Homo sapiens: one gene and its partners. The protein of the gene in region 3 purifies or fractionates together with the protein of the main gene of each other region. This does not show direct contact. Each region holds a gene or a part of one and is shown on either strand. Other genes may lie near its edges. The genes, in order: RSU1, NRBF2 and SEC24D.

Region 1 (3,654 bases), on a different chromosome or scaffold from region 3:
ATGATGCATACTGACATGGTCAAGATAGAATTTTAAATGGTTTTCATATTATCACTTCTCTTAATTTTGAACAAGTCATTTTTGTCTCTGCAGCAAATACCTCCTTCCCTCTGCTCTGCTTTCCTTTTCCATCTGTCTTCTTTCTTCCTTCCTTTGTTCTTAATTTCTGGGGCCAAGGTACTGTCATGACTGTGTACCTGTGATGACTTGGGTTAAGAAATTTAAAAGACATCAAATGATCCAAGAGGCACTTAGGGTTTGATTTAGGGTACTTAGGCTGTGATTACTGAGAAGGACTTCTTAGACCTGATCTGTATTGGATGAAGTGACCTTCACTTTTTTTTTCCCCCCCCCCAGGAAACTTGGATTTAACTGGCCAGAAGCAGGTATTCAAAGCAGAGAACAATCCCTGGGTGACCCCCATTGCAGACCAGTTCCAGCTTGGCGTGTCCCATGTTTTTGAGTATATCCGTTCTGAGACATACAAATAGTAAGTAGACTCTGATTTTCTGAAATAGTAGACTGTGATTTTATAGTATTTATAATTACGCCTTTAAAAATATTATGTGACAGTATCCTATTGATGGCAGTTAGCACTTAGCATTTTAAGATGTTTTATTAAAAACTGCATGTCGGCCAGGTGTGGTGTGGCTCACAGCTGTAATCCTAGCATTTGGGGAAGTCGAGACTAGAGGATTGCTTGAGCCCAGGAGTTTGAGACCAGCCTGGGCAACATAGCAAGACCCCGTCTCTACAAAAGAAAAAGAAAAAGAAATTATCCAGGCATGGTAGTGCATGCTTGTCATTGTAGCTATTCTGGAGGCTGAGTTGGGAGGATCACTTGAGCCCAGGACATTGAGGCTGCACAGAGTCGTGGTCATGCCCTGCACTCGAGCCTGGATGAGAGAGCACGACCCTTTCTCAAAAGAAAAAAACAAGAAAAAACAGCATGTGGTCATTGTCTCTATTTGTAAATTGTTTTTTATTGATATTTTCAAGGGGATTTTTACTGATTTTCTTTAGAGAATTTTTGAGGTATTAAATTAGTTGAATATTCATGGCACTAAGGAAATTCACCATTCAGATCAGAACATATTTTTTTTCTTCTGTGAATGCAAAGAATTACAAGTGTTCTGAACAAAATTGTTAAGCAGTTTATTTATAAAATCAGTAGAGAGTACTAGCAATGCGTCATTCTATTATAGAGAAGCTTGTACTGTAGTGAGATGATAATCTCTTAGAGAAAAGGGGAAGGCAGGAGAGGAAGCGGAATCTGCCAGCTTAAAGTCACAGCATCCAAATACCTCAAGTCCTCACTCCAGGTGAAAGGAGTCTATGCAAAACTGTCCCAAAAACCTCACGATTCCTGCTTCTTTCTTCCTCCATGTGTCAAGGTTGAAAGGAATTCTGCCACTTCCACGTGCTTCTGTTGTTATATGTACCGTCATTATTTTCCTACCTTATCCCAGCCCCCAGCTGCAAAACAAACTGTCATTTATCAAATACTTGCCTGACCCCAAATGCTGAGATCTAGTATAATTTTAAGCATATACAAAAAAGACAAAAACATCCCTACTCAAATGTAATCTGTTTTTGTGTCTGACATCAACTTTTAAAATTTATTTTTTAATTAATTAATTAATTTTTTTTAAGAGACAGGGTCTCACTGTATTGCTGGGCTGGAGTGCAGTGGCACAATCACGGCTCACTGCAGCCTCAAGCGCCTGGGCTGAGGCAATCCTTCCATTTCAGCCTTCCAAGTAGCTGGGACTACAGGAGCACACCACCATGCCCAGCTAATTTTTTTAATTTTTTGCAGAGACGGGGTCTCCCTTTGTTGCCCAGGCTGGTCTCAAACTCCTGGTGTCAAGCAATCCTGCTTTCATCTTCCAAAGTGCTGGGATTACAGTCATGAGCCACCATGCCCAGCCTGGCACCAACTTTTGAGAATCTAACATCCCAACTATTGGAAGAAAGCTAGAAGATTGCTAAAGGTCACATTTAGTTAAGAGTTTCTTTTCTTTTTTTTTTTTTTGGTATCAGAAATATGTCCCACACTCAAGAAAACCCTGTGAATCTGTGCCAGGCCAGTGGGTCGGGATTGATTGGCAGGGCAGAGCCTCTGCCCAGAAGTGGCTGGCTGCATTTCTGCAGTCTTGCAGCCTGAGCGCCATGCTCCTGGTCAAACATTTAGCACTTGCTGTGGCCATGTTTCCACCAGACAGAAACAGAGAAGACAAGCTGTAAAGAATAATGGCCAGCCGGAGCATGGTGGCTCACGCCTGCAACCCCAACACTTTGGGAAGGCAAGGCGGGTGGATCACTTGAGGTCAGGAGTTTGAGATCAGCCTGGCCAACATGGTGAAACTAAAAACACAAAAATTAGCTGGGCATGGTGGAGGGGCACCTGTAATCCTAGCTATTCAGGAGGCTGAGGCACAAGAATCGCTTGAGCCAGGGAGGCAGAGGTTGCAGTGAGCTGAGATCGTGCCACTGCACTCCAGCCTGGGCGACAGAGCAATATTCCATCCCAAAAAAAAGAAAAAAGAACAATGGCCTTAAAATGAAATACACTAAAATTGCCAAAATGATACCGTATCCTCCTATATAAAAGCAATGTAAAGCGTGGTTTAGATTACTTTAGACAATACTATGACACTTACAGTATAAGTCTAAAGACTTACCTTAAGGATAAAATGAGATAGGTATAGGATGTGTATTAATTGTTTCATAAGCCATATAGATATGTACAGTTATTACAGATTCAATTTTTTTTAAAAAAATACGAATGTAGCTCACCCTTAGAAATTAGTTAATTATGAAAATGTGTGAAAATATAGTCACAAATTAGCAGATGATTGTTTATCTTCTTCTTTGTAAATTGTTAATCATTGCTATCGTGAGTTTTAGATGGGGCTCTAATTTTTTCTTAGTAAACAGGAAGCTATTTAGAGCTTGGTTTGTATGGTATCTTGAAAAAAGTCATTCTGTATATGATAGTATACAGAAAAATGCATGAACAAACTCCTAGCCATCTGGAATTAGAGGAAATTCTCTGTTTATTATTCTGGTTAACAATTTTTAGTTTTCCATAGATCACTTTATAATTTATAGAGGATGAGAATACATTGCATATGAAAGTGCTTTTAATTTTAAAAGATTAAATTGTGAGTTTCTGGATTTTGTATTACCTCAAAGTAATTATTAGGCAATTAATCACCATTCTGCACTGTTACAGACTATTTTAACTGATTTGAATGTGGTTAGGATTCTGGATAAATGAGAGGTATCTATAACATAATTGGTATATCTGTTTTTATGTCTGTTATTAGCATCCTATTTTGGGGGGTTGGCGTAGTCTAAGCAATGTGTCTGCTAACTTTTTCTGTTTCATTTCCTCATGGAGCCTTGGATTACCTTTTATGCAGTTAAGTCAACATTAAAAAGTTTCAGTAGGCTGGGTGCGGTGGCTCACGCCTATGATCCCAGCACTTTGGGGTGAATTGTGGGGTGATTCACCATGAGGAGGGTGAATCACTTGAGGCCAGGAGTTCAAGACCAGCCTTTCCAACATGGTGAAACCCCATTTCTACTCAAAATACAAAAATTAGCCGAGTGTGGTGGTGGGTGCCTGTAATCCCAGCTACTTGGGAG
Region 2 (3,654 bases), on a different chromosome or scaffold from region 3:
AAAGCTAACATCAGCATGTTACTACAGGCATGCATGTAGAGATGAGATATTCAGAAGGGAAGCTAAAAAAAAGACCACAGGAAAAATCTCCCACATTTTAGGTAACAAAAGTCTTATAGTAAGTTTTGCATTATCAGCATGTTAGAAAACAGAAGCTCAGTGAAAATGAATTGGTTGGAATTGAATTGAATTACTATTTTTAGAACCTGAAATGGCCAACTATTTGAAACCCAAACTCCTTTTTATAATAACTAAGATAAAATGGCAGACTTGTTACAATCAGCTCCTGTTTTTAGGGATCTTTGGGCTCAGAGAGCTGTATCCAGGAACTGTTTACCACATTTATGCCATCTTCATGATTTAGAAAGAAGATTGGATTAGCAGGAGCTGGGAAATCCAACACACTTACTTGAAAAATAATCAAAGCTGATATTCTGGTGGGTCAGCAGTATCAGTCTTGCATATGAAAAGCAACACACATTATTACTATTGTGACTTTCTGCTCTTCAGTTTTACACTGAGTACTTAATAAGAATACTCACCTGCAGCCTTTTTGTGACAAGAAATAGCCTCTTCGTATTTGCCTGCAGCTAATAAACGGTCTGCTCGTCTGCTCTGTTGATGAGCCTAGAAGACAAACATCCCTAAGTTCCTCTGGATCATAAAATAAAACATGATTTCTTTCAAAAAGCAACTACCTTTTAAGAAGATAAATAATACTGTTTTGTTGCCACATATCAAATCACTATTACAGCTCTATCTGTAGCTGGGGAAATGTAATGGGTAGAGCCTAGAACTGCAGCATCTGAAAGGAACTGGCAACTTCTTTCACTTCTACCATAAGCCCTCTCAAGGTTAACACCAGGCACTTAACTCCTTCAGTGACTCACATTCTTCCACTCTTTGGAGATAAACCAAGAGTTACAATCATAGATTGTTATTCAAAATGTCTATTTTCTTGATTTTTAACAAGCTCCTTTCAAAACAAGAGCTATTTTGTAGATACTTTCACTAATCTGTATAGTCTAAAAACTATAATCAGGAAATCACTCATCATGTAGTAAAATCCAAGCTTCTCTTCTATCATCTCATTCTTTCAACATTAAAGTTACTATTTGTTTTTAAAATAAAAAATTTGGACATTGCAGTTGATGAATTCATGATACCAACATCTAATATTACAAAGATTGTTTTAAAGATATCTCATCAAAAGAACAAAGTCAAAAAAATCAGAAGTTCTAACAGCAAATAATGTAATTGAAGGAAAACTTATTAAATAAGCAGTCACTGGCCTCCTTACACTTTAATAATTTCAAAAGAGCTTTAAGTCCAGGCACAGTGGCTCATGGCTGTAATCCCAGCACTTTGGGAGGCTGAGGCAGGCGGATCATCTGAGGTCAGGAGTTCAAGACCAGCCTGGCCAACATGGTGAAACCCCATCTCTACTAGAAATACAAAAATTAGCTGGGCGCAGTGGCTCACGCCTGTAATCCCAACACTTTGGGAGGCCGAGGCGGGCAGATCATGAGGTCAGGAGATCGAGACCATCCTGGCTAACAGGGTGAAACACCGTCTCTGCGGGCGCCTGTAATCCCAGCTACTCAGGAGGCTGAGGCAGGAGAACTGCTTGAACCTGGGAGGCAGAGGTTGCAATGAGGCAAGATCATGCCATTGCTCTCCAGCCTGGGTGAAAACAGTGAAACTCCATCTCAAAAAAAAAAAAAAAAAAAAAAAGCTTTAATATACATTATTTCAGCTGCTTTAACTACGACTTTGTTAATGTGTTTTCCTCTCTTACATAAGGAGGCCCAAAAGACTGATGGGGAGGTCGTGTAACTTACATAAGATTATACATTTAACTAGCAAGGAGAAAGGCAGAGATAATCAGCTAAAGTTTTCTACCTCATGTAACGATTTTCCTCAGTAACAAACACACACGATTTAGCAAAGCTTCACAGCTTCACAAAAAAGCAAAAAGCATTGTACACCCATATTCATAACAGCATTATTCACAACAGCCAAAAGGTGAAAGCAATCCAGATGTCCATCAACAGATAGATGGATAAATGCAGTATACACACACAATGGAAAGGTACTGTCTTTAAAAGTAAGGTAATTCTGGCCGGGCGCGGTGGCTCACGCCTGTAATCCTAGCACTTTTGGAGGCCGAGGCAGGCAAATCACAAGGTCAGGAGATCGAGACCATCTTGGCTAACACGGTGAAACCCCGTCTCTACTAAAAATACAAAAAAAATTAGCCAGGCGTGGTGGGGGGCACCTGTTGTCCCAGCTACTCAGGAGGCTGAGGCAGGAGAATAGCGTGAACCCGGAAGGCAGAGCTTGCAGTGAGCCGAGATCGCGCCACTCCACTCCAGCCTGGGTGACAGAGCGAGACTGTGTCTCAAAAAAAAAAAAAAAGGGAAGATAATTCTGACACATACTACAACATGGATGAACTGTGAGGACATTAGACTGAATAAAATAAGCCAGTCATAAAAGGACAAATACTATACAAATCGACTTATTGGGTATCTAAAGTAGTCAAATTCTTAAAAACAGGAAAGTTGAATGGTGGAACAACTCATCATTGAACAGGGGAGGGGGAAATGGGGAGTAGGTATTCAAACGGCATAGTTTCAGTTTTGCAAGATGAAAAAATTCTGGACATTTGTTGCACAACCATGCGAATATACTTAACACTACTAAACTGTACACTTAAAAATAATTAAGAAGGTAAACTTCACGTGTTTTTTACATCACTTAAAAAAGGTAAAAAGTGGCTGGGTGCTGTGGCTCATGCCTATAATCCCAGCACTTTAGGAGGCCAAAGCAGGCAGATCACTCGAGCTCAAGAGTTTGAGACAAGCCTGGGCAATATGGTGAAAACCCATCTCTACAAAAAATACAAAAATTAGCCGGGTGTGGCGCTCGCACCTGTAGTAGTAGTCCCAGCTACTGAGGAGGCTGAGGTAGGACAATCACTTGAGCCTGGGTAATGGAGGCTGCAGTGACCTGTGATCGCACCACTGCACTCCAGTCCGGGCAACAGAGTGAGATCTTGTCTCAAAAAAAAAAAAAAAAAAAAATCGGGCATGGTGGCTCATGCCTGTGATCCCAACACTTGCGGAGGCCAAGGCGGGTGGATCATCTGAGGTCAGGAGTTTGAGACCAGTCTGGCTAACATGGTGAAACCCCGTCTCTACAAAAATTAGCCCAGCAGGATGGTGGGTGCCTGTAATCCCAGCTACTCGGGAGGCTGAAGCAAGAGAATCGCCGCTTCAACCCGGGAGGCAGAGGTTGCAGTGAGCCGAGATCGCACCATTACACTTCAGCCTGGGCAACACAGTGAGACTCGGTCCCAAAAAAAAAACAAATCTGTTCTGTCAGTTAGCTGAAAAATGATTTGTCTTGGATGCTTTTTAAAGACATGTCCCTTTGATGCTGCATAAAAGTACTTCACAGAATCACGTTTGCAACTGAGATTATAAATATTCTGGGCATGTTTACAAATCATACTCAGTATAAAACACAGGTGAAGACAAAAGTAGAAAACAGCACTTCCAGCAATGCCTTGCTGTTTGCCTTTTCCCCACTTCTATTTTTGTAGGAAAGAAGCAACAATCTTAAAGACAAGATTCGTGCCTTTCAATTACA
Region 3 (3,654 bases):
AAATCATTTTTTAGTGATCACAACATATTTTAAATGTGTCATGCAGGACTAGAATTATATTTTTTGTGCTTGTGTTTCACCAGTGTCATTAATTGATTAGAGATATAAAGAAAACTTTTACTGTGAAAAGTTAATGTTTGTATTTTCTATCTTTTATTCATTTTCTTCCAAAAAGTATTTAAGTCAAAGGGTGCTTAGCCTAACTGTGTTGGGCTTTTTGAAAAGTTTGACAGGAGAGAAATTGGATAGTTTTGTTTAACAGTATTTTTGGGTTACAATGTTATTCATTCCATTATTTCTAGCCAATTTTCTGCTATAGGATAGCTTGTACTTGTGCGTACAATGGAAAGAATGGAAAGACCATTTTCTTTTTTTTTTTTCTTGCAACATGTATTTTATTAGGCAGCCTTTCTGTATCATTACAGAAGAGTCCTAAATTATAAAGTCAATTCCGGCTACCGATAAAACATAGACTGCAGAAATAAGCTGTTCAGAGGTATGAGTGGAAAAGAGCATTTTCATCACTCACCTATTTATCTCAAAGTGTGAGATACTATTCTGCAAATATGCTTAATGTCATGCACTCAGAGTAATGGTTGGAAGGTTAATTTTCTGTTTTGTTTATAATAATTATTCAATTTAAACATATGGAGAAAAATGACAAGATAAAATTAGTGTGATGCTTTGAATAGTGCACTCACTGAAGACCTGGAAAAACGCTGGTCCTAGTGTTGTCACAAATAAATTGTGGGACTTCAGGCAAGCACTGGCTTCCCTCAGGCTCTGCTCCTAACCTCTCAATGGCAGTAGGGGGCAGAAGGCAAGACATGGGCCATGGGGAAATAGTTTCCAGTTTTCAGATAGAGAAATTGAAATCAGAGTATACCATTTGGGAAAACTTAATTTAAAATTTAAAATTCATAAGAATTTATAATGTGACTCTCAGGCAGGCTTTAATCGCATTTGGCAGATTAACCATGCTAGGCACATTGTCCAGATAGCGGCCATTGTTTAATGCAGAACAAGAAAAAATAAACGTCTAATAAGTTCAAGCTAAATCAAAGGTAAAGCATGATGTAATTTTTAGATTTTTTTTTTTTCTCTTTGGGACAGGGTCTGGCTCTGTTGCCCAGGCTAGAGTGCAGTGGTGCAGTCTCAGCTCACTGTAGTCTTGACCTCCTGGACTCAAGTGATCATCTTACTTCAACCGCCCAAGTAGCGCCACCACTCCTGGCTAATTTTTTATTTTATTTTGTTTTATTTTTTGTAGAGAAGGGGGTCTCACTATGTTGCCCAGGCTGGTCTTGAATTCCTGGGCTCAAATTGTCCTCCCACCTCAGCCTCCCAAAGTGCTAGGATAATAGGCATGAGCCGCTGCTCCTGGCTGTATTGTTTTCTTGATTTTCATTCTGTTGATGATTAACTTTAGTATAGATAAGGCTCTGGTTGGCTCAGTTTCCCAAATTGATTTCCAGAACTGGTTTTATGCTCACATTAGGATTTTTTTTTTCTGTCTTGGCATGTTCAGCATGTGAGCATAAATATAAGATGATGCTACATGATCATATTGAGTTCATGTCAAGCTTAATTAAAGATTTAGTATATAATATCAGTCATTTTCCTAGGCCTACTAGACAGGCTTAATTTAATTTTACAAGCTATTAACATTATTGTACGCCATTTGCTTGAGACGCTGTGATATTGTTTGACATCCTGTTTTCCTCTCTCAGATTTCCAGGCCCTCCACCTGTCAACAATGTGGCATCCTCACATGCACCATACCAACCCTCTGCACAATCTTCTTATCCAGGTCCTATATCCACTTCATCTGTCACCCAGCTGGGCAGCCAGCTCAGTGCTATGCAAATCAACAGCTATGGTAATAGTTTTATTATTAGTGTTTATTGACTGCCTTGTGTCCTGGTCATTTTTAATGAGAGAGGTTTTCTTCATTTTTAAAATAGATGTAACTAGGGCATACTGTGTTGAAGTAGTATTTGGACATTTTTAATAATAAAGCATCTATCTTATGTATGGCTATAGTTAATTGTTTTCTTGATCATGCTGCCACTTATTTCAAGGTAATTGAAGGACCCTCAGAATACCTTCCATTCAATGATTGAACAATAAGAAAAGACAAAAAATGCTGATTTCACAAATAAACATTAGAATAGTGAAATTATTTTAAGAAATAAATAAGGATAATTTAAACCTTGTATTGTTTATGATGGGGCCCCCAAATCAGAAATATAGTACTCATTGTTTCACAGTGCATTTTAATTATGTGTTTAGATCATGGAAAGAGTGGAAGCTCAGATGTTGTGAGGCAGAAAAGAGAAGATAGGAGAGGAAAGAGTCACAGTACTGAGATTTACATCAACAGAAATGCTGTATATCCTGTGAGTCATGGAAAGCTCCACTGTAATGACAGCACAGTCGGCCATTTATCTAGATGAAGAATGTTTCCATGTTACTTAAAATTAGTTTTCTGAAGTATCATTAAAACCCCTCTATTTTCTGTCTTTTACTCATTTCAAAATGGATAAGTCTCCAAAGAAGCAACCCAGTTTCCCATAATCAGAGAAAGGAAAACATAATCTGGTTTTACAGCTATTTCCAATATGATTGGAGAGCATGTTGGTGGCCCTTCTCTTGTCTCTGGTTATTTCTACCTAATTCTGAAATTTGTTTGGTCAAGTCACGCACAGGATGCAAATAATTTATTGAATGTGCAATTTACCTGAGTAATGCTTGTTATGTAATAGAATTTTTATATGATTTTCTAGATTTGTACCAGATACAGATGCTTTAATTAATGCATATATCATGTAATTACACAACTGAGTTAAAATTTATTCTATGAATTCCCTTACTTAAATTATAAATGTTGCTTTTACCTTTTAAAAATTTTCCAGGCCAGGCATGGTGGCTCACACCTATAATCCCAGCACTTTGGGATGCCAAGGAGGAAGTATTGCTTGAGCCCAGGAGTTTGAGACCAGCCTGAGCAATATCACGAGACCCCAACTCTACAAAAAAAAAAAAAAAAAAAAATGAACTTGGCGTGGTGGTGTGTGCCTGTAGTCTCAGTTACTTGGGAGGCTGAGGTGGGAGGATCACTGGAGCCCAGGATGTTGAGGCTACAGTGGTCCATTATCTTGCCATTGTATTGCAGCCTCAGTGACAGAGCAAGACCCTGTCCTTAAAAAAAAGAAAAAATCCCAGTTGTATAAAATAGCGTTTGTTCTATTTTCTGAATGAAGATTTCAATTTGTGGCAAAAAACCCAAACATGTGTTTCTAAGGGTGTCCTCTTGCTTTATGTCAGGAAAACAAACATCTCTGTCATGTACTTTGCAGAAGTCAGAGAGTTGAGAAATGTGGTATTTAAGTGGGCTGGTCTCCTTTCTCACACAGGTTCAGGCATGGCTCCTCCAAGCCAGGGACCCCCTGGCCCTCTGTCAGCCACATCATTGCAGACTCCTCCACGACCTCCACAGCCTTCCATTTTGCAGCCTGGATCTCAAGTTCTTCCACCACCACCCACCACACTCAATGGTCCTGGTGCCTCACCTTTGCCTCTACCAATGTACAGACCAGATGGGCTCTCTGGGCCTCCTCCTCCAAATGCCCAGTACCAGCCCCCACCTCTTCC

The links.
Region 1: the proteins of SEC24D (region 3) and RSU1 fractionate together in Homo sapiens (co-fractionation; one large-scale study listed by BioGRID). This does not show direct contact.
Region 2: the proteins of SEC24D (region 3) and NRBF2 purify together in Homo sapiens (affinity purification with mass spectrometry; one large-scale study listed by BioGRID and IntAct). This does not show direct contact.

What each region holds. Positions count from the first base shown.
Region 1 is NC_000010.11:16,691,859-16,695,512, reverse strand, and holds part of RSU1 (ras suppressor protein 1), read left to right. Parts: intron 1-357; coding exon 358-490; intron 491-3,654. UniProt on the Homo sapiens protein: Potentially plays a role in the Ras signal transduction pathway. Capable of suppressing v-Ras transformation in vitro.
Region 2 is NC_000010.11:63,143,182-63,146,835, reverse strand, and holds part of NRBF2 (nuclear receptor-binding factor 2), read right to left. Parts: intron 628-3,654; coding exon 543-627; intron 1-542. UniProt on the Homo sapiens protein: May modulate transcriptional activation by target nuclear receptors. Can act as transcriptional activator (in vitro). Involved in starvation-induced autophagy probably by its association with PI3K complex I (PI3KC3-C1).
Region 3 is NC_000004.12:118,815,489-118,819,142, reverse strand, and holds part of SEC24D (protein transport protein Sec24D), read left to right. Parts: intron 1-1,730; coding exon 1,731-1,879; intron 1,880-3,416; coding exon 3,417-3,654. UniProt on the Homo sapiens protein: Component of the coat protein complex II (COPII) which promotes the formation of transport vesicles from the endoplasmic reticulum (ER).